3 separate regions of the Homo sapiens genome follow, and all the other regions are linked to region 1. The links come from fine-mapping of genetic effects on plasma protein levels. Region 1 holds a variant in brackets. A gene starts in each other region. All regions are shown on their forward strands.

Region 1 (5,409 bases):
TTCACGGCCTTCGTCTCGCCCTCGCGCAGCAGCTCGAAGGTGACGTCGGGGATGGGTCCCTCGCAGCGCAGGACGGCATCTCGGCCCGCCAGGACCGCCCCACTCCACGTCGCCCGGAGCTGAGGCCTGGGAGGGGGTCCTGGGCGGAGCGGGCGGGTGGTCGGGCCAGGCCACGCCCCAGGCCACGCCCCAGGCCACACCCCAGGCCACACCCCAGGCCGCGCCCGCGCCTGCGCCTCAGCCCCGGCTTCATCTTCCCTGTCTTGTTCCTGGGCGCAGAGGGCTCCTCCGGCGCCGCCGAGCTGCGCCCGCTGCCTTCACACCCCGGACATCCGCGCCACACGTGAGTGTCCCCGCACCCCTCCCCCAGGACCGTGGAAGTCCCAGATTCGGGCCTGCTCTGGGGCTTCTGGGGTCCCCAGCCTCGGTCACTCTGACGGGTGAAGGGAAGAAGAAATGATGGAGAAAACGGTGCTCCTTCATGGAGGGACCAAAAAAGGACATACAATCTATGTCAATAGATGAGGGTTTTCCCTCCATAAGTTTAACTTTAAAAGTGTATTTAAGGTGCCGGGCGCAGTGGCTCACACCTGTAATCTCAGCACTTTGAGAGGCCGAGGCAGGCGGATTGCCTGAGCTCAGGAGTTCCAGACCAGCCTGGGTAACACGGTGAAACCCCGTCTCTACTAAAATACAAAAAATTAGCCGGGCGTGGCAGCGTGCGCCTGTAATCCCAGCTACTCGGGAGGTGGAGGCAGGAAAATTGCTTGAACCTGGGAGGCAGAGGTTTCAGTGAGCCAAGATTGCGCCACTGCACTCCAGCCCGGGTGACAGAGTGACACTCCGTCTCAAAAACAAACAAACAAAACAAAACTGTAAGGAATCAAATGTTACAAAATCCTGGAAGATTTTGGTAATGCTGTTGATAATTTCAGGGAAATTAATGAAGTACATGTAAGTGCTTGATTTAAATGTGTATTTTATTCAATAGTTTGAGTATCTTGCCATGGAAGATACTAGCCCAGCCTAGCAGAAAAGTGCAATATGTATAATATACTTTCGCATTTTAAAAGTTATATTCCCTATCCATTTTGAAATGCTAGCCAAACTACATGAAGTTATTTGCAATTAATTGTAAGCTAATCAGGAATTTTGAAAGCTTGATTGGATTAACAAACTATAATGTTGAAATTTGGTAAAATCATAATGTTAATTTTTACTGTGAAACGTTTTCTTGTAAGATAGATATACACATCCTAGTTTAATTTTGTGTCTTAGTGTGGATTTACAAATTTACTACAGTTATTCTGAGCCCAGGAACCCAATCAGATTTCAGGCCAGTTTGATACTGGCTGTTCTTAATTCTAACAGGAGAGTAGGACATCATACTAAATGTTATGTCAGTGGGACTGTGTTGTCTTTGGAGCTTAGTAAATTAATCATTTTCTTCAGACTTTAAGGAGAGTGATAAATAAAATTTGGAGTCATAGGATATAGATGTACAATTTAAAGATTAAACATTTTTTTTTTTTTTGAGATGGAGTTTTGCTCTTGTTGCCCAGGCTGGAATGCAGTGGCATGACCTGGACTCACTGCAAACTCCACCTCCCGGGTTAAAGCAATTCTCCTGCCTCAGCCTCCCAAGTGGCTGGGATTACAGGCATGTGCCACCACAGCTGGCTAATTTTGTATTTTTAGTAGAGACAGGGTTTCTCCATGTTGGCCAGGCTGCTCTTGAACTCCTGATTTTGTGATCCACCCGCCTTGGCCTCCCAAAGTGCTGTGATTACAGGCGTGAGCCACCTTGCCTGGCCAAGATTAAACATTTTTCATCAATTGTGGATGGTGGCTTATAACACTGCAAGAATAGGCTGGGCATGGTGACTCACAAGTGTAATCCCAGCACTTTGGGAGGCAGAGGCGGGCAGATCACAAGGTCAGGAGGTCAAGACCAGCCCAGCCAACATAGCAAAACCCGGTCTCTACTAAAAATACGAAAATTAGGTGGGCATGGTGGCATGCGCCTCTAATACCAGCTACTCAGGAGGCTGAGGCAGGAGAACTGCCTGAACCCAGAAGGCGAAAGTTGCAGTGAGCTGAGACTGCACCACTGCACTCCGGCCTGCAAGAATAAAAGTAAGTTATCCAAAAAAAAAACAAAAAGGAGAAGAAAAGGGAGGAATGAAGGAGAGAGATGGGGTTGGGGGGCAGAGATGAGAGAGAGAGAAAGAAGAAAAAAGAAGAAAGAAAAGAGAGAAAGAAGGAAGGAAGAAAGAAAGAAGGAAAGAGAAAGAAAGAAAGAGGAAGGAAGGCAGGAAAGAAAAGAAAGAAAGTGAAAGAAAAGAGAAAACGGTGCTCCCAGCAAAGGGTACGACCTCAAGATCTGGAGGTCAGACCTGTGCCCTCACGCTCTGCTGGGCTCTGAGTCCTGGAGACGTCGATGAGGAAATCAGAGGGACAAACAGAGCTGGGGACGGCGGGGATGGGGAGAAGGACACATCAGCCGTGCGCCTGCGGGACCGGGGCCGGGGCGGGGGGTCCAGTATGACGACTGACATGGCCAGTAATAAAACAAGGCAGCCACAGAGCTGCAGGGATCTGAACAAGAAAACCTGGGGCCAGCCTCCCTGCTGCCGACCACCACGCTACACGTGACCTACGGGCTTGCGTCCGTGGGAAATAAGCCGAAATTCCAGGCGTCCCCAGACCCTCGACCACCGATCGCCTGCTCCCCGCCGGGGTAGGCGATGGGGGCTGAACCAAGGCCCAGAGCGCCGCCGTCGGACGCCCAAGGAAAGAGGGGAAAGACAGGAGGCCCCGAGGGGCACTGAACCCGCGCCCGCCCTCGCTGGTGCCCCGCCAGCTCACCGTCCACGTGCAGCTCCAAGCGCTCGCTGGGCGCGGAGCCCCCGAAAGGCGGCTTCAGGTCCACGTAGACGC[A/G]GCTGTAGTTGGCGGAGTCAGCCACGGAAATGTTGTGCAGCTCGAAGAGCGCCTCGGTCCCAGCGGGGCTCTGGAAACGGTGCACGCGGCGCCCGCCCCTGTCCTCGCGCACCAGGGCGAAGCGCGCGCCCTCCAGGGGCGCCAGGCACCGCAGCCGCAAGGCCCTGCCGGACTCCGGCTCCGGGGAGAACTCCGGCGCGGGCAGCGTCTCTGCGGAGCAGCACACGGGCTGACCCGGGCGCCCAGCGGCTGGCTCGGCCCTAACGCGTGGTCTGGCCTCGCGCTCTTTGCCTTGGCTGAGTCTTCTGCCCGCAATGACCTGGCCAGCTTCCTCCCTCGCCTCCTCCGGGCCCGCCCCACCTTTGCATCCCAGTCCTTGGATATCTCACACGCACCCTTTCACTGTTTCTTAGTAATTTGTTTGTCTACAGACACAGACGGGAAGCGGGGACGGGGACATGTTTTGTGCATGGCTTGATGCCTGGTGCACGATGCCGCTCAGTAGTGGATTTGCTCCACGAGCGTCTTCTGAGCACCGCCCCAATGCCCGCCCCACGGAGGGGCCCCTGTGGTCCGCTGGGCATGGGGTTCGCTGTCCGGTGCTCAGAGTTTGCTAAATACCATCAGGTCCAAGGCAAGCGAGCGGAGGAGCTGCCTCAGCAGAGGCCCTCAGTGCTCACCTAGACCTGGCAGCTGGGATGGGACCTGCCAGGTGGTGCCCCCTGTGGCCTGGGCCAGACCTGTTCACCCAGTTATTCCCTGTGGGGCCTGAAGGTTGTCACGCTCATCATCATATTTGCAGTTTAGGACCCTGAATCGGCGGGTGGGCGGATAAAGTTGGTATTGGACCCTGGCCCAGAGCACTGCACTTCCCCAGACTCTACACCTGGTACTGCTCCTGCTCCCCAGGGACCCAGCCGCGTCCCTGTCCCTGCTGGCCCCGGCTCACCATCGCTCAGAATCAGCTCGACCGGCGCGCTGTCCCCGGACCAGCCGTTTTGGTTGTCATGCAGCCGGTAGCGGCAGGTGTAGTGACCTCCATCCCCCAGGGCCACCGCGTTCAGGTGAAAGAAGATGCGATCTGGGCTGGTGCTGCTCCTGGGTACCAGCAGCTCTTTCTCCCCGCGCCGTAGCTGGAAGTCCACTCCACTCAGGGGAGCCACGCAGGTGAGGGTCACCTTGTTGCCAGGGTGCAGGACCTGGGAGGACTCTCCATGGTGCATCAGCACAGGCGGTGGTGGTGCAGCTGCAATGCAGGCAGCATTACTAGGCTGCCCCATCCCTGGAGCTGCCCTCTGCCCAGTCCCCAGACCTCTGCCCTCCGGGTGGCAATCCCAGGAACACCCTTCCATTCTTTTTTTTTTTTTTTTTTGAAACGGAGTTTCGCTCTTGTTGCCCAGGCTGGAGTGCAGTGGCGCCACTCAGCTCACTGCAAGCTCTGCCTCCCAGGTTCAAGGGATTCTCCTGCCTCAGCCTCCTGAGTAGCTGGTACTACAGGCACCTGCCACCACACCTGGCTAATTTTTGTATTTTTAGTAGAGACGGGGTTTCGTCATGTTGGGTAGACTGGTCTCGATCTCTTGACCTCATGATCCGCTGGCCTCAGCCTCCCAAAGTGCTGGGATTATAGGCGTGAGCCACCGCACCCGGCCTCACCCTTCCATTCTTTGGGCATCCTCTGCCCAAACTCCTTTGCAACCATCAGACCCAGGCAACCGTGTGGCCAGCTTCCTGGACCTGGTCCTGGGCAAGGACATTCAGCATGGAGGTCAGGATGAATGTGGTCATGCCCCCTGTATCCTCCTCCCCCAGCAGCCCCCAGAGATGGTTCCCACAGTCACCGAGCTCCTCAATGGTCACAGTAGCGCTGGGCTCAGAGAGGGCGCCTTCCCCATCGGTCCGGTAGCTGCAGCTGTAGTTGCCAGGCTGATGGACTGGAAAGGTGGCCTCCACATCCTCCTGGGCCTCAGGCACCTCCAGAAACTCATGGTCGCCCTCCCGCCTCAGCAGAAAAGTCACACCCCGCAGCACACCTCGGCACACTGCTGTTGTTTTCAGGCCGGGGGTGATCCAGGACACTGGCGCCATCGAGAGCCAGGGAGCAGGCAAGGACTCTGTGGGTGGGGTGGAGTTGAAGAGTGCTTCTGCATAACAGGAGACGTGGGAAGCCCAGCAGAACCTGGGCCCCACACTCATAAGACTGTGAAGGAGACAGGGATGGAGGGCATTGCTGGGAAAAGGCAGGCAGGCACCAGTGGAAACAAGGCATACGGCAAGAGAAAAAGAGTGTGTGGGAGCTGTACGGCATGCCGGGCCTGCTGGGGACACAACCATGTATTCCTTACAACACAGACATCATCCCCATTTGACAGATGGGAAGATTGGGGCTTGGGGCTCAGAGACATCGGGTGACTTGGAGGAAGGGAGACCCCCCAGTCAACAACCTACCCACTGCCTCCTGGCCCCCAA
Region 2 (8,000 bases), not on the chromosome of region 1:
TTCCATTATTTTTTCCATAAATGTTTGGTAGAACTTGCTTATGAAACCAGCTAGGTATGAAGATGTTTTCTAACCATGGTTTTTAATTATTGATTTAATTCCTTAGTGGAAATGAAACCATTCATATTTTCCATATCTTCTGGTAACACATTCTTGTGTCAATAAATTATATTCCTAATAAGGGAGAAAAGGGACTATACTCTAAAGCACTAGCAGAATTTAGCAAGCATGTGTCAGCCTGAGCAGGGGAAGTAGACTTGGGTTTGGATTTTGAGGTGCTTGATAAAAGGAGTTGGAATATAAGCCTCGATAAGAGACAACTTACTGACTTGGGAGTATTCTTTCCGGATATAGGCTGTAACCTCTTGAGAAGGACCCCAGGGGTTGGTACAGATTTGTTGTCAGAAAGGCTCCAGAAGCCTGAGAAAGCAATGGCTCATGCCGAGTGAAGTTAAAATACCCGAATTGCCATGACAGATGGAGAAGGAAGGGATTAAAAGAGTCATGGAAGTGGTCATGCTGGAGTGGATACATTACATGAGGCCAGAAGACTCACCAGATTATGTTCCATGGGAATGCACTATTCACCAAAGCCACCAGGACTCCCTGGTGAGAGGAGCACCAGCATTTCTAAGAAGTTAGTGGTCCCGCCTTCTTTATAGGCTAGGGCTGATGGTAAGAGTGGCTGTCACAAAACTTGGCCCATTGATAGCTCTTCCTCCTTGAAGCAGTGGGGCCCTCTCTCCTTGAAGCAGTGGAGCTTTCTTGCCTTGAAACAGTGGAGGCTAGGTAGCAGCATTTAACAAACAGAAGCCAAGGGGTTCTAAATATCGTTATAGCCAGCAAGGTTGGAGTGACAATCAAGGGGTCTTGACCCATGGAGAGTTGTGGCAATGGTTAATAGAACAAGCATCTCTAGAGGGAAGGTGAAGTGGAAATCTCTGAAACTGCCCCCTTCTCCCAGGAAAAAAGAGTAGATTAGAAACAATATTGCAATCTAGTGGAGGGGATGGTGGAGACTAATGCCACCCTTAAGGATACAAAAAATGCAAGGAAAATGGTTATTATCATATCTATTTAATTTGCAAGTCTGGCTTCTGCAGAAACTGGATGGATCCTAGAGAATGACTGTAGAACACTGTGAGCTCAACCAGGTAGTAACCTGATTGCAGCTTCTATAACCAGGTACTGACACATGCCAGGTATTAAGTACATGTTATGTACCTATTGATTTGGCAAATGCATTCTGTCCCATAACAAGTAGGAAAGAGGATAAGAAAAAGTTCCCATTCATAAGAATGGAAAATATTCACTTACAGTTTTCCTGTAGACTATTAACTCTCATCTTCTGCATACTGTAGTCTGAAGAGATCTGAATTTTCATGTATCTCTCAAAACAACACATTGATCCATTACATTGGTGACATCATGTTGATAGGGCATGATAGACAAGAAGTGGCCATATGTTGGACACTCTGTAAGACATATGTATTCCAGCTGGGTGCGGTGGCTCATGCCTGTAATTCCAGCACTTTGGGAGGCTGAGGCGGGTGGATCACCTGAGGTCGGGAGTTCAAGACCAGCCTGACCAACATGGAGAAACCCCATCTCTACTAAAAATACAAAATTAGCCAGGCATGGTGGCACATGCCTGTAATCCCAGCTACACAGGAGGCTGAGGCAGGAGAATCGCTTAAACCCAGGAGGTGGAGGTTGCGGTGAGCCGAGATTGCGCCATTGCACTCCAACCTAGATGACAAGAGCGAAACTCCATCTCAAAAACAAAAAGAAAGAAAGAAAGAAAAATACAAAGAAAAAAACGTATGTATTCCATGAGGTGGGAGATAAATCTTTTAACTATTTATGGACTTGTCATTTCAGGAAAGGTTTTATGAGTCCAGTTGTCAGGGGCATACAGGGATATCTCCTTCAAAGTGAAAAACAAATTAACATAATGTATTAGCACAAGGATAGGAAAATAAACCATTGGAACAGAACAGAAATTCCAAAAGCAGACCACAAAATCATTGAAATCAATAAACCGAGTAAAGCAGATTGCCCTCTCTAATGTGGTGGGCTTCATTCAATTAGTTGAAGTTCTGAATACAACAAAAAGCCTGACCCTCCTGCCTGTAAGAGGGAATTCCTCTTGCCTGATTGCCTTCACACTGGGACATAGGTTTTTCTCCTGCCTTTGAACTTAAACTGAAACATCATCTCTTCCTGGGCCTTAAGCCTGCCCATTCTCAGGTCTTTGAACTCAAACTGGGACTACACTAGCAGCTCTCCTGGGTCTCCAGCTTGCCAGCTCACCCTGCAGATCTTGGAACTTGTCAGCCTTCATAATTAAATGAGCCAATTCTCTAATTTCTTATTTTTTATACACACACCATTGGTTCTGTGTCTCTGGGGAATCCTGACTTATACAATGGTCTTACCAATGAGTTGCCAAGGTCCATTGGGTATTCATGTGGCAAAAAATAAATCTTGAATCCTTCTTCACACCAAACATAAAAATCAACTCCAGATGGATTGTAATTTAAATATTAATGCTAAAACAATAAAGCTTCTACAAGTTAACATAGGAGGATATCTTTATTGCCTTAGGATAGGGGAAGATTTCTCATTAGATCACGAAAGGCCTAACTGTATATAAAAGATTGAAGCATGTGACTCTCTTAAAAGGAAAAACAATTGTGAAAATCCATTAAAGCATTCTGCTCTATCAAAGGAGGCTGTGACCACTCATTTCTGAGAAATATCTGTCATGTGAAAACATAATCACATGATTATGCATAATCCTAAGCATAATCCCTGGGTGCTTCCAACTCCTGGTCACCCATCTGGAGATACAACTTCTCCATAAGCCCCTCAATCAACAAGTGAACCACTCGTTTGTGTACCCTAAACCTTTCAAGTAACCATAGGCAACCCTGGGCTGAGAACTCACATGACACCACCATAGTTAAAATGTCTTGCATCAGCACCTCCAATGTTCCCATGGTCCAGTCTGCCTATAAAAAGGAGAGACAACAGCTCATACCCCAGAAGGAGGCCAGGAGTTGTGAGTTTCCAAGCCCCAGCTCACTCTGACCACTTCTCTGCCTGCCCAGCATCATGAAGGGCCTTGCAGCTGCCCTCCTTGTCCTCGTCTGCACCATGGCCCTCTGCTCCTGTGCACAAGGTGAGTCTGTCATCCATGTGCTTTGATGGCTCCCTGGGCAGAAGTCAGGCGACATCTTCCAAGTGCTGTGGCCTGAAAACCCTCGTGTGAAATTAGGGATCCTCAAATGGGGTTTCAAAGTGACATCATTGTTTTCTTCAAGAAGGTTGAAAAGCAGTCTATTGATCTGGGCAGCAGGATGGGAGTCAGAGAAGTTTTATCCTACTGAGATAAATGAGATGGTTGAAGTCTAATTCATTGGGTTATTAGCGTGAGGTAGAATCTAGGTCTATTTAGTTCTCACTGGTGCTGGTAAGTTTTACAATGACCTCAGCAGTCTCCTAGAGTTCAACCCCTTGGGTAACATAAAAGATGTCTATACTTTTCTCAGCTATCTTGTGATTTAATCTATTAGAAAAAAAATTCCCCAAGGAGAGTTAGGAGAAGGGCATAGACTATTCAGGGAGCTTGATTCCCTGTAGCGTAAAATAAAGACTAAAATGGAGAGACAAGACTAGGGAAATTAAGGAGAAACAAACAAAAAGCCAGATTATTTCCAGCTTTCTTTTCCTGCAGGCCTCAACTCTGAGCTATGCTGTCTCCCTTTGCTCCTTTGTGACCCGCCTGGGCTTCTTCTCCTGAGCAACTCCTGTTGTCTTTGTTCCCTCAGATAAGATTCACACCCCATGCATCTGCTGCTTCTCCTACACCTCCCAGTAGATGCACTGCAAATTTTCGGTTGCCTATTATAAAACCAGTGGTGAGCGGTCTTAAAATTAAAATCCTATGATATATTTTAATTACTTTATACAGTCAATATTCATTTAGTTTTCATCACATATTTGCTCTTCCTGTCCTCTTAAATTCTTCTGCATCTCTGAGCTCCATCTGCAATCACTTTTCTTCTGCCTAAAGGAATCCTCTTAGTATTTTCATTACTGTGGGTCTTCTGATAGTGAAGTCTCCATTTTTTGCTTGCTTGGAAATGTCTTCATTTTACCTTCATTTTACCTTCACACTGGATATGAAAGTCCATAGTAGCTCCCACCTCCTACTTGTGCTTACGTGCTCCTTGTCCCTTGTCCCATGGGTTGTCTCCTCCATATGCCCTATTTGCAGACAGAAGGACTGATGCTGACATTACGCCAGGGTAAGAGCACCAGCTGCTGGAGTCAGCAAATTTGCAGTGGATATGGAGAAACATAAGAGAGGCAGGAGACAATGGGGTGCCTTAACCGTGAGGGAACCAGCATCCAGAACCTGAGAAAAACCAAGTAAATTTCTTCCACTCTTGAAAAGGGACCAGCAAGAAGTTGATGAAGACCTCACTGCTCAGGACTGTGAAGTAGGGCACAAAAGGAACTAAGGAAGTCAGGCATTCATCCTTGACTTTGAGTGTTTCTTTTAAATCTCTGCCTCTGTCTTACTCTCACTCCCTTGCTCCCTCTTCAGGGAGTATAGCTCTTGGAATGGCTGGCCTTTGTTCCATCTCTTTTGGGTAGGAACTTCATTCAGTCTACAGAGACTTTTCCCAGCAAGAGACCATCGTCTCTAAATCGCTGTAGGAGTAGAGCTTCTCAGGAGAACTGAAGGAACTCTGCCACTTCCTCACCCTAGGAACCAACTAGACCCAGAGTTTGCATCTTGTGAATGACTGAGTTAGGCCCCAGTTTTCCCAACTAACAATGGGTCCTAGCCCTCTCCTGCCTTTCAGATCTAGGTTAGATATCTAAGTCCTCAGAAAATAGCCCAGAACATTTTGAAACCTTTTGTGAAGTTCTTTGATTTTACTTAGAGAATCTTAATCCACAAGAATTAAGTGATATGGCTTAAATGTCTGTCCAGAGCATAGGGAAACAACTCTAAAATGAAGAAAGGACAAGGGTCAAGAGAGTCTCACGGGACAGATGAGACTTGTGAGCTGAGGGCCATGGAGAGGAGATGGAGGGCACCAAAGAAGACCTGTTCAGTGTTGGGCAGGCAGAGGAGTGTAGGCAATGCCAAAACAGGACTGGGCACTCACTGCCACCTACATCGTTCTGGGGTCCAAGCCATGTCCTCAACCCTTTACAGGCAACTCTAAACCATGAGGAGCTGGAGACTGGGGATGACCAGAGGGGAAGATGTTAAGTGCATGGTGTCTTGCTCTGAGTTGTACATGTTGGGGTACCTTGGGTCCCCCAGGGGTTCAGGATGTACAAGAGCAACTCAACTGCTCACTTGTTGGGGCTGAATGTGCAGAAATGTTTTTGACAGTGAGAGAGGGTGAGATGTTAGTGTTGAAGTCATACGTACAAGGAGAGATCTTCAGATTAACACTTCCACCACAGAGCAGCTCTCTAATGCTGTGCTGCAGCTCCTCTGACCACATGGTGTGATGTAAATGGTCATGCCACAGCGTTCTGGGCAGCACAAGTCACATTTAAACCACACCCTGGGTGAAAAGGACCATTACATCGTGTTAATCGGAGTGCTTCTAAGAAATGCTTAACTCATGAGGAGGACGTCAAGAATTGGTGTTACCAAGAAGCCAAGCTTAGCTGGTACCTTCTATCAAGAACAGATCTATTTGTGAATGGCACCATGGTCATTTCCTCCTATGGAACAGATATTTCTAGTGTTGTGTTTCCATTGCACAGAAGTGACATGTAAGATGATACCCCAGAATCTTAAGTAGTTCGAGTTGTGTTTGATCCAGACCCAAATGGACAGAATGGAATAGGGAAAGTCTGGACTATGGGAATGACAAGAATGATGGGGCCAGGCTTTTAACTGCTGTTTGATTCATTGAACATTCATAGCTCCCTACAATATGCCATCATTGGGTTTGACTCTGGGTAATAGACATGAATATGCATGACATATGGGGTGTCTATATAGATCAGGAGCCTTAGATGCCCTTATTTTTTCACCCAGGAAGCCCACAGCTAGGAAAATATCCTACAGAAATAACCTCACTTATGGAGAAAGTTTTTTGCATACAGATGTTTGGCACAACTTATAACAATGAAAAATTGGCCAGGTGCAGTGGCTTACACCTGTAATCCTAGCACTTTGGGAGGCCGAGGCAAGCAGATCACCTGAGGTCAGGAGTTCGAGACCAGCCTGGCCAACATGGTGAAACCTCATCTTCACTAAAAATACAAAAATTAGCTGGGCATAGTGGTGCACGCCTGTAGTTCCAGCTACTCAGGAGGCTGAGGTAGGAGAATCGCTTGAACCTGGGAAGTGGGGGTTGCATTGACCTGGGATCACACCACTGTACTCCATCCTGGGCAACAGAGTGAGACTCCATCTAAAAAAAAAGGAAAAATTGAAACCAACCCACATATGTTACAGTAGTGCATGACAATATTAATGCACTAGGCTTAAGTAAATTAGGCAGTTCTTAAAAATACTGGAATGATTTGGAAAAGTCTTTTAATATTAAGCACAGTCATATGCTGCATAACAATGCTTTGGTCAATGACAAACTGCATATATTATACAGTGGTGGTCCCATAAGATTATAATTCTGTATTTGTACTATACCTTTTCTATGTTTAGATATGTTTAGATATGCAAATACTTAACATTGCATTGCAGTTGCCTACAGTATTCAGTACAGTGGCATGCTGTACAACTTTGTAGCCTAGGAGCTACAGGCTGTACCATACAGTGAAGGTGTACGGTAGACTACACCATCTAGGTTTGTGTAAGTCTATGATATTCCCACAATAACAAAACAGACTAATGACAAGTTCCTCAGATGTATTTTTGTCATTAAGTGATGCATGGCTGTATAAATAAAAAAATACAAAATTAAAACCTGTATCATGACAACAGTAATGTCTTCCCCCACCAGACACAGTAAGAAGAAGGAAAAAAGCAAATGAGCAAACAGTACTATCATAAGCCTAGAAAAAAACTGCACTGGAAAGAAATATACCAAACTGTTTTTTAAAAAAAAAAAGTGGCTAGGTTTGGGTACTAGAATTTTTCCTACCTTCAATGAAATTTTTTTTTCAGGTTTTGCATCAGAATGCACATATGCCACAATAGGGAATGTAGAAAAAAACTCTCACATTCCTGCCTCCGTTTGCCTGCTGCCTACCCAGCTTTGAGATTCTAAATGAGTTTTTATTCTTTTCTGTATTTTATGTGTTTTCAAAATTAGCTTTACTGCTTTTTGGTGTAATCTATAGTTCACATAACAAATCATATAAAAAGCTATTTGAACTAAAAACACTAGTAACATTGCTCTTCCTGTACTCCTATGAGACTCCCTCGTATGCTTGTGGATGAGACATTATGAGGATGTGATGACTGAGAAAGCAGCGGCCATTTTGGGACCACGAGGTGACAAGCTCAAATAAGAAAAGCCAACAAAATGGTGGGGGAAGGGGAGATGTTTTAAGAAGCCTGAGTTCTTGATGACACAACTGAGCTGTTAAACAAACTCAGGGAGGACCACCTGTTTAAATTTATTTATTTACCTAATTATTTATTTGAGACAAAGTCTTACTCTGTTGCCCAGGCTGGAGTGCAGTGGCATGATCAGAGCTCACTGTAGGCTTGACTTTCCGGGCTGAAGCAATCCTCCTGCCTCAGCGTCCAAAGAAGCTGAAACTACAGGCATGCCCAGCTACTTTAAAAAAAAAAAAATTTATAGAGACAGGGTCTCACTATGTTGCTCAGGTTGGTCTCACACTCTTGGCTTCAAGCAATCCTCCCACCTTGGCCTCTCCAAATGCTGGGATTACAGGCATGAGCCACCATGCCTGGCTCTGATGTCCATGGTACATCTATGCTGTTGGAACAGCTGGGGAGGCTATCAGAAGGTTCTGCTCAATGGGAG
Region 3 (9,192 bases), not on the chromosome of region 1:
TAGATTTCTGGCCTCCATAACTGTGAGAGAATAAGTTTTTGTTGTTATAAGCCACTTAGCTTGTGATAATTTGTTGCAACCACCCTAAGAACCTAATATATTATTTAATGGAATATCCAAAATATTATCATTTCATCATGGATGCAATATTAAAAAAATGAGATATTTCCTTCTTTCTTTGTTCTAAATGTTTGAAATCTAGTGAGTTTCTTACCATCAGAGTACATTTTGCCTGTTCAAACCTCATTTCAAGTGTTCAGTAGTCACATGTGACCGGTGGCTAGCATACACATGCAGAACACATACAGCATAACCTTGGCCTTTCATCTCAATAATTGTGTTAAGTGCTCTGAGAACTCTGAACCAGTGGAAACTCTGACATACCAAACTCTCTTACCCCCCTTTACTTTCAGAATAGCCTGCCATACCACAAAGTTGCTGGATAGCTCTGAAAAGATTTTCCATTTTAACCTTACCTTTCCTTCTGCAGGTAAAGATGGAAGCAGCACAGTAACCAGAAACAACACCGGTAGTAAAGCCATTGCTGGAAACTAAGTCAAGAAAAACAAAGGTCTGCATTGAAATATGTAGTTTAAAAAACTTCTAAGAGGGGGAATACCAATATAATGATCTCGATTATCTCAAAGGAACTGTGATTCCCAGATTCATTAACAATGGAACAAAAGAAGAATTGCCCTATGGTACTAGTAGAATCATAATGAGGCCAACCTTGTCTTTGATAGTGACAATAAAGAAAAAGCTGAAGAACTCTACTGATGCCCTTGAGGTACATCTATAAAAGAGAGAGACCTACTCCCTTCTTTCTGCCTACTTCTGCTACCCTTACGCCATCAAAAAGAAAATAGATTCCTTAATAGTTAATTATAGTACTGACATTCATTCTTCATCTCAATTTTTGGAGGAAAGTTTATTTTCAATATGTACCATCTCTCAATTGGCTATTCTATACGAAAAGTAAAACGGTTTGTCCTTTTATTTATACCAGACTCTAATTAAGATGACAAGGTTGTGATTACACAGATATGGTTGTGCAAATACTTTATTAGCTGTTATTTCCCTAATGGAGTAACTAGAAGTTATGTTTATTTTCTTCCTTATACTTGTGAATATTTTCAAATTTCTCTGTATACAAAAAATACAATTAATGCATTGAAGATATAGCTTATTCAAGTTTACTCAATCCATTATTTGGTAAGAAGATTGTTTCGTATTTTCATTATCTCCTAAAAAGACACTCAGCATTTTGTTACCCATGTTGTCCTTTCTCAATATGTCAAAAAGTCTCACGTCCTTCAGATGAAACAACAAGACCACTTAGTTTTGGAAACACTCACCTTTCTGTCATTAGTCATATAAATTGTTTAATTTGTAAATTAAAGTTATGCTGCCTAGATTTGTTTCTTGTGTGTGAGACTGTCACTCCCAAATTCTTGGAAAGAAAGAAAATTCCGAACAATTTATCTGTGATGCTTCTCAGGCTTCACTTACTGTAAATAGTGTATCATTGATACTTGTTCCATCCATTGCCTTTATGCTCAATTATGTGCAAAAAAGGGATGAGGGATGAACAATTATTGACGGTTCATGGAAAATGATATACAATTTCACTCCCATACCTTACTGGGTATTACTATTTATATTGTATGGATGATGTAATTGAGGCTTAAGACAGTTAATTAACCTATGCCAATGCTACGTTCTTAGGTAATGTCAGAAATTAGTCTTCATCCAATTATGACTTCGAAGTCAATGACTTTGAAAGAGACATTGACTCATTGAAAGAGACACAGTTTTAATTGGGAAAAGGCAGACATTGTTGCAGCACAATGGAGACCCTTTATTTTTACTTTAATAATTCCCTTATTAATACATAACTGTATATGTTAATAGTAAAATCATTAATATGCCAGCTTATACAATATACTTAAACAGCCATACTTTTCCATTTTCCTATTAAAGGTAGTTCTAGTATAATTGTCTCAAGTCACAAACATGAGAATTAATTCCATTACTTATTTTTAGAATAAAATGTAAAAAATTTTTACATATCAAATTTTTTTGTGTGTGTGCGTAATATTGCTGTAATTTACCTTCTTAACTGTAAAAGAATAAAATTAACTTGAGGTCATTCTCAATACAAATTTATTAAAGTTTTGAAAATCATGGATAGGCCAGGCACAGTGGCTCATTCCTATAATCCTAACATTTTGGGAGACTGAGGTGAGAGCACATAACTTGAGCCCAGGAGTTCAAGATCAGCCTGGAAAGCACAGTGAGACCTCATCTCTACTAAAAACAAACAAACAAAAACAAAACATAATTAGCTGGGCATGGTGGCAAGTGCCTGTAGTCCCAGCTACTCAGGAGGCTGAGGTGGGATGATCATTTGAGCCTAGGAGTTTGAGGCAGCAGTGAACTATGATCACAGCACTGCATTCCAGCCTGGGTGACAGAAAGAGACCCTGTCTCTAAAACAAACAAACAAACAGACAAACAAAAAACAAAAAAATAAAATCATGGGCAAACTCATTAATCATTTTACCCTTGACAACATAAAAATGATTGGCATGATAAAATATTCACATTAAAATCAATGATTTAACACTTACTGTTGGTTTTCTGAGCAGGATGAAATATCTACTTTATCTTTAGAAAGAAAGAAGGTGGAAGGTTTAGAGCAGCATATATATTACACATATTCCTGTTTTGTCAAACTCTGGTTTTGTTAAATAAATCTAAGTCAACAAAGTTCTGAAGTAGTATTTTTCATACCAGTAACCTTAAACTTCATTGTCAGTTGTCTGATAATGCTTTTGACATTATTTGCTTCCCACATAGTTTTTAACATGAGTAAGTAAATCATGCCCTCCCTTTCTAATCAGTTCTCCCTTCTCCTTAGGCACACGATAATCTGCATGTGGCCTTTTTGGACTAGTATTTCTATATTGACAACCCAAGACAGGTTAACTACTGTGAAGGTTACCAGGATTCTGCCTTATAGCTGAACTCTCATAGTTCAGCTGTCTATGATTTTTACTTTCTAATTATCAACTACCTGTAGCTTATTGGTTACGGGTGCATTCTTTGGAAACCATCAGGTCTGGGAAATCTATGCCAAGCTTCAGTGTTTTTCTTATGTAAAATGTAGATTTTTATATCACAGGTTTTTGCTTTGAAGACTGGAAGGGACAATGTATGTAACACCTCTAATACAATAAACACATTATGCACATAATACAAATAAACGGAAATTATTCATGTTTTTATTATCTTTTGCAATGTCTGCTAGTTTGTTGAGCTCATAAGAGCTTTCTATAAACATATGCTGTTTGATTGAATTGCTAATTACTAAGTGTTTAAGAGACATGTGTTTCCTTCCAGGTGTTATAGGAAAATACAATCAGTATAATCTAATTCGAGATTCACATGTTCAAGGCCTGGTTCTATTAGACACCTTCTGGCTGACTTTAGGAAAATGCTCTAACATCTGGGCTGTTGTATCCTCATCAGCTCATTGAAAGCCATACACAGGAGCCTGAAGAGTTTTGTATAGCTCAATCACCCAGTGTATGCATCTGATGAGCCAGAATTCTATAATAGGCCATGATGCCATACTCTCCTCTTTGCTGCTCTTCTCTCTCATAACCTCAACCATCTAACCTATACTCATCTTCATTGAGTCAATGAAAGCAATGTCACTGTTGGTGAGAGTATATTCAAGGAAAAATATTTTTTTCTATTCCATATAATTACATTTTATTCCTTTAAACCCATATTGATATATAGTTGAAAAGTTGGCTACCATTTTTTTTCTTTGCTACTTACTAATGGTGAAGTACTGTGCTCTTTCTTGCAGGTGTTTTAAGATCAGGATGACATGGTTTTCCTAGAGTGTCTTTAGGAGGGCCATGGTGTATAATTTTATAACCCTAGAACAAGGAAACAAAATATTTAAAATAAAGATGTGAAGAATACCCTTATAGATGGTATCTATAATCTTTGTCACAAACTTAAATTTTGACTCAATTGTTTAGTATTGTTTCTAATAATTTACTGTATTTATTTGATTTCAGCGTTAAGACCATATTGTCCTTCTGAGGTCAGATTGTATTTCAACGCCCTGATATTTCCTTCAAACACTAACAAAAAAGTGGACTTCTTGAAGTTCAGTAACTACTAGTTGGCTAACTTGCTTGGAAAATTGCAACCTTTTTTCAAGACTCCCAACCCCTTATCTAGGACTTCAACCCATTCTTTAAAAGATCATTTCCATAAGCAGTGTCCCACATGGTAAGTATTAACTACGTGGATTTGGGGGTAACAGCTTTGTCTCTTCATTTTTTTTTTAAATTCTGGAAGCCAATAGATGATATAAAGTCCAGCAGAGTCAATGACCCCAACTCTAATTGTTATTACAGTTTCTAATAACTGTACATTCAAAACATCAATTAGAAACTAAGAGTCTTAATTTGACTTCGTAAAAAGCAGATTGAGAAATGACTTCAGGCTTCTACTATGATTCAATGGGTCTTATGTACTTAGAATGATTTCTCTTTTAAGGTAGGTAAAGAGTTTCAATAGACTAAACATAGAGAAGCATGTTGAAAGTTATGGTAGGTCGGCGCTAAGCAACAAAATTGAACTCTCAGTCTGCCCGGCATTAGCTATGTGCCCTCCAGATGCCGGAAGAGGAGCGAAGGAGGATCAGAAACCCCCTCACCTCAACGATGGTTCTCTCCCCTGTGCTTCACCCCACCTCCCCGTCCCTAGCCATTTCTAGTCTCCAATCCGGGTCTTACATTTACCCTGGCTCCAGAGCACAGACCTTCCTGCAGTTGGGCCGGCGCGTTGCGGCGTTGAGGAGCTGCGGCGCGCCCCTCTCACCGCGATTGTTCACTTGCCAGGCGCCACGTGTGGGCGACGTCACTGGGCTTTATGCTTTCATCGCCGCTATCTGCCTACGTGAGCTGCTCTCCTCCCATCGCCCCCGCCTCCCCTACTACGGAGAAAATCTTGCACGTTTTCCCTTGTGAAAAGCAGAGTTCTCTTTTTCTCATTACCACCAGTTGATGAGGAAAGAAAATGTCTGTTCGCATACCTGCGCCGTACTAGGAGGAGGAGGGAGGTCATATAAGGATTCGGGTTGCCCAGGGGGTGGCTTGAAAAAGGAGGCGTTCGCATTCAAACAAGAATGCCTGAATTAATGTAGTTCAATTTAAAGAGCTAATTAGGAGTCCACAGGTGCTTAAGTTTGCAGTGCGCTGCCAGTGTCATGCCAACGACGCACTCCAGTTACACAGGTTGTCAGTTTCAGGCTCCCTCATAAACACTTCATGTTCTTGTCCCTCTTCCCCGTTGGCAACAGTTTTATGGTGAGAAAATTCACGAAGAGTAACAGGAACAACTCTTATGAAAATACGCAGAACTCCTGACCCAAGGCTACTGGCTGCAAGTTTAGCATACGTATCAAGCATGGGTTAAAGACATGTTTTCTCTCTCAGAAGGCGGATGAGTAATAGGTGCATTTTCTTCTATTCACAGTTGTTTTCAAAGCGAAAAGGAGTGAATTCGCTTATGACCTAGAGGAAGAGAGATGGGTCAAAAGATGTCAAGCCAAGGATTAATATCCGTCATACCTTGGTTCTCTGTAAGCCATGCAATAAGAGGCTTGAGATTTCACCAACTCTGGAGACTCACTTGGGCACAACTGAAACTATAACAAACTTGGTGCTCAGTGCCATTTTCCTTTGGCAGTGTTACAAGGTAATTTCAAGGGATCAGCACACAGACATTGTTTTAGTTTTCTTTTGCTGCTTATTTCAGTTCATGCAGCACTGACTAAAAATTTTGGAATTTAGACTGCTTAACGCTTATATCTACATCCAATATCAAAATTCATTACTGACAGTTTGCCTTTCTAAATATTTATGAAATCTAGTCCTCAATCTGTCCCTCACTTCTATATTCATGTTTTCACCATATCTTGCTTAAGTTATTAATTGGACATTTCAAATACCTATATGCACAAAATCTCTGCCTACCTATTTGTTCTTTCTTTCTAGTGCCGAACAATTCATTCTCAGCACTATAATAGTCTATCATTTACTGTGAATATCTTATTTTTCATTTTTGGAGAAGAGTCATTCCTGTAATTATTACTTGTTCCCATATTCACATTGATGATATCAGAATGAGAGCAACTTGAGCGCTGTGGTGCCAGATATTGTTGGTGAACCTGAATTTCAGAAATTGGCTATGTCTGTCTTGATTATTGCTGTATCTCCAAAACTAACACAATACCAAATATAGGTGGTAGTTTGTAAATATTTGTTAAGTGAGTAAATATTGACCCGACATAGATTCTTAGAAAATACAGAAAAAAGGACATAAAATCTCTTTCTTCTAAGACTCATAGTACTATGAGAGAAAGGAGTATGTATATGAATAAGTAAAGAATACTATTAGGTAGTGTAGTTTAATGCTAAGTAGGGCGACCAAAAATATATACAGTAATTGAGAGTTCTGTGAGTTGATATGATCTGGGTAAAACCTAGGAAAGTTTTGACATTTGAACTGTTATTGAATAATGCGTATGGCTTGATTTGAAGGGAGAAAGAGTTGAAGAACAAAAGCAGATAAATCATTATATCACAAGGCATATTCAAGACAGAAAGACTGTTGAAAAGGTTGGGGAAACTTTGTATAGAAGTCTAAGGAGATTTGCTTCTCTGTATAACATGGGAAAGTAATTTCATTGACATTTTGGAGGGTTGGGAAATTCTTTGATCAAAAGAATGTTTCATAAAAGCCACCTGATCTCACTGCATGGGGTGATTTACAGAGCTGAGAAATTGATGGCAGCAAAAATAAGTGTGGTAACAATTCCCCAGATTAATTTTGTAGTAGTAGAAATAGGACAAAAGGGTGGAATATGAAGAGATTTTTAAAAAGTGTTGATAGATTTTGTATGAAGGGCAAATCCAGAATAGAAGACTTGTAAGTTTGGTGCCTGAATGTGTTGGAGAGCACATGGAAAGTAGATCTCCATTACTGAGAGGAATAGTACAGGTACTTCTAAGAACATTGCCAGGAGTCCTTTGCTTTTCTAGAAGGGCATCATTTGTTAGTTCCTTTTTCTATGGTTTGGAGTAAAAGAAGCAATGATTAGAAATGCATTCCTCATAGTAGGCTCTATAGCAGATTCTACTGTATAGGATATAGTTAAATACCAGACTTTAAATTCTCTTGTGAAAATTATGATAGAATTGGCTGAATAGAGAAGTATCTGTGCAGCTGCTGGCACTTGTGGCCTATGGAGAAATACATCAGATGAAGACTATAGAGATTTAGCTGTAGAGGATAAATGAAGAGATTGCTTAGTTAAGTAAGTAGACTCTTTAGCTCATTTTTTGATCTATTTAATTTTAGGTGGTTTGGTTTATGGGTAACCTGGGTAAAGAGCATACTCCAAACTCTTGGTATTATCCTCCCGATAGTCATAATAATAGTTTCCCTGGTACACTGTATTCTCTCAAAGGTTTTAAGTGCTTCCACGCAGCCATTGCTAGAATGTCAAATGGTCTCTCTTCAATTAGAATGACAAGAGCTGAAAGAAATGTGTGACCATGAGGACACCATAACCTATGAATGATGTGGTGAGACCAGAAACCCGAAATAATGGTAACTGAGAGTGGTGCTAAGGCCCTAAGTTTTGGTCACACTCTCACCTAAGTGAGAACCTTATCAAAAAGGGGGGAATTTTCTTTTTAAGCAAAAGCATAGGAGGCAATTGTTTTGGACTGAGTTCATGCACTAGGCCCCAAAAGACCAAACCAAACCAAACCAAAACAGAGTCGCTTGTGCTAAGACATTAAGGAAACACATAGATCCTAGAAAAGACCAGGTTTTGTTTTTCTCCTGCAAATTTCCATAACAAACATTGCTGAAAGAATAGGTATCCACCCCCTAAAATTCCCATTAAATCTTTAACCCAATTCATTTCCTCTCGCCTAGAGACGATTAAGCTTTAGATGATCATGTGACAAGGGTTCCAGCCAGTTCCAGGTGAAGATGCCTCCCCTGGCCATCAAGGAGCTACCCTTCCTTCACTAGAGAGAGCAAGGCAAGAGGTCTGTGATCCCCACACCAGTCATAAAGCATTTACAGAAGAAAGACCATCGGTTGTTCCACCTCCCATAAAGACTTATGGAGATCACATCTTTCAGGGGGAAATTGAGGCAGGAGAATAGGGCCTAGAGGCAGAGAACGAAAGGACTTTCTAGAACTAAATCAAGGGGAAACACTTCTTCTAGAAACACTGTATTGGTACAGAAAAAATTTCTCAAGTGAGCATGTGTACAACTCCATTAAACACACTGTGCATGAGGCTGCTCCCAAGTGCTAGCAGGCTACTGCACATGCAGATGGCCTAATCCAAGGGAAGAGTAATGCAAGACCCTGGAAGTATGCCAACATATAAAACCCCAAGTCAAAAGGTCAAATTGTTAGAGGAAAGAATGGCTACTCCATAGGCAGAGCAGCCCCAAGGGCTGCTGGTTGCCAATTTTTATGGTTATTCTGATTATATACGAAACAAAGGGTGGATTTTTCATGTCTCCCCTTTGTAGACCATATAGGGTAACTTCGTGACATTGCCATGGCATTTGTAAACTGTCACAACCCTTGTGGAAGTGTAGCAGTGAGGACGACCAGCAGTCACTCTTGTTGCCATCTTGGTTTTGGTAGGTTTTAGCTGACTTGTTTACTGCAAACTGTTTTACAAGAAAGGTCTTTATGACCTGTATTTTGTGCCAAACTCCTATCTTATCCTTTTACTTAGAATGCCTTAACTGTCTGGGAATGCAGCCCAGTAGGTCTCAGCCTCATTTTACCCAGCCCCTATTTAAGATGGAGTTGCTCCGGTTCACATTCCTCTGACATTTCTCCTCTCCCTTTTATAAAAGAACCCTTAATCCTAACAGTTGCAGAAGGATGAAGATTCATCTTCTTTAACTTCTTCAGGCTGAATGGGGCAATGATATTTCTGTGTAACTATTAGGGTCTCTTGTGTTCAGGGTACAGAGGAGTTCAGTCAGAATGCATTAGTATGATGAAGGCCATTCATAACTCTTAAGTTCCAAGAAAAGGTGATATCTGGAAGATTTTTTTAAA

Which allele goes with the higher level. Positions count from the first base shown, and alleles are read on the strand shown. Strength reflects both the effect of a copy and how common the allele is.
As copies of G replace A in region 1, the plasma level of the protein whose gene starts at base 3,047 in region 2 goes down (weak association).
As copies of A replace G in region 1, the plasma level of the protein whose gene starts at base 4,889 in region 3 goes up (moderate association).

What was found. A credible set is the group of variants that fine-mapping cannot tell apart. PIP is the posterior inclusion probability: the model's chance that the variant is causal. Protein levels are from antibody-based Olink assays in UK Biobank. Linkage for the fine-mapping came from a reference panel and not from the study's own genotypes, which makes the PIPs less certain.
Region 2: it holds the start of CCL18, and the variant in region 1 is the best candidate, but not a certain one, in a credible set for the plasma level of the CCL18 protein (UK Biobank, PIP 0.89).
Region 3: CRISP2 starts here. The variant in region 1 is the best candidate, but not a certain one, in a credible set for the plasma level of the CRISP2 protein (UK Biobank, PIP 0.87).

What each region holds. Positions count from the first base shown.
Region 1 is chr19:58,347,502-58,352,910 of GRCh38, forward strand. It overlaps A1BG (alpha-1-B glycoprotein), which reads right to left. Exons shown (of 8, transcript NM_130786.4): 4 at 4,782-5,054; 5 at 3,890-4,186; 6 at 2,869-3,150; 7 at 1-139. A1BG-AS1 (A1BG antisense RNA 1) reads left to right here and starts at 4,469. Exons shown (of 4, transcript NR_015380.2): 1 at 4,469-5,409. RefSeq lists enhancers at 1-294, 511-590 and a silencer at 1-320. The variant A/G (reference allele first, on the strand shown) is at 2,941.
Region 2 is chr17:36,061,226-36,069,225 of GRCh38, forward strand. It overlaps CCL18 (C-C motif chemokine ligand 18), which reads left to right and starts at 3,047. Exons shown (of 3, transcript NM_002988.4): 1 at 3,047-3,184. The coding sequence starts at 3,118.
Region 3 is chr6:49,708,655-49,717,846 of GRCh38, forward strand. It overlaps CRISP2 (cysteine rich secretory protein 2), which reads right to left and starts at 4,889. Exons shown (of 10, transcript NM_003296.4): 1 at 4,821-4,889; 2 at 3,847-3,950; 3 at 2,631-2,667; 4 at 477-551. The coding sequence starts at 542.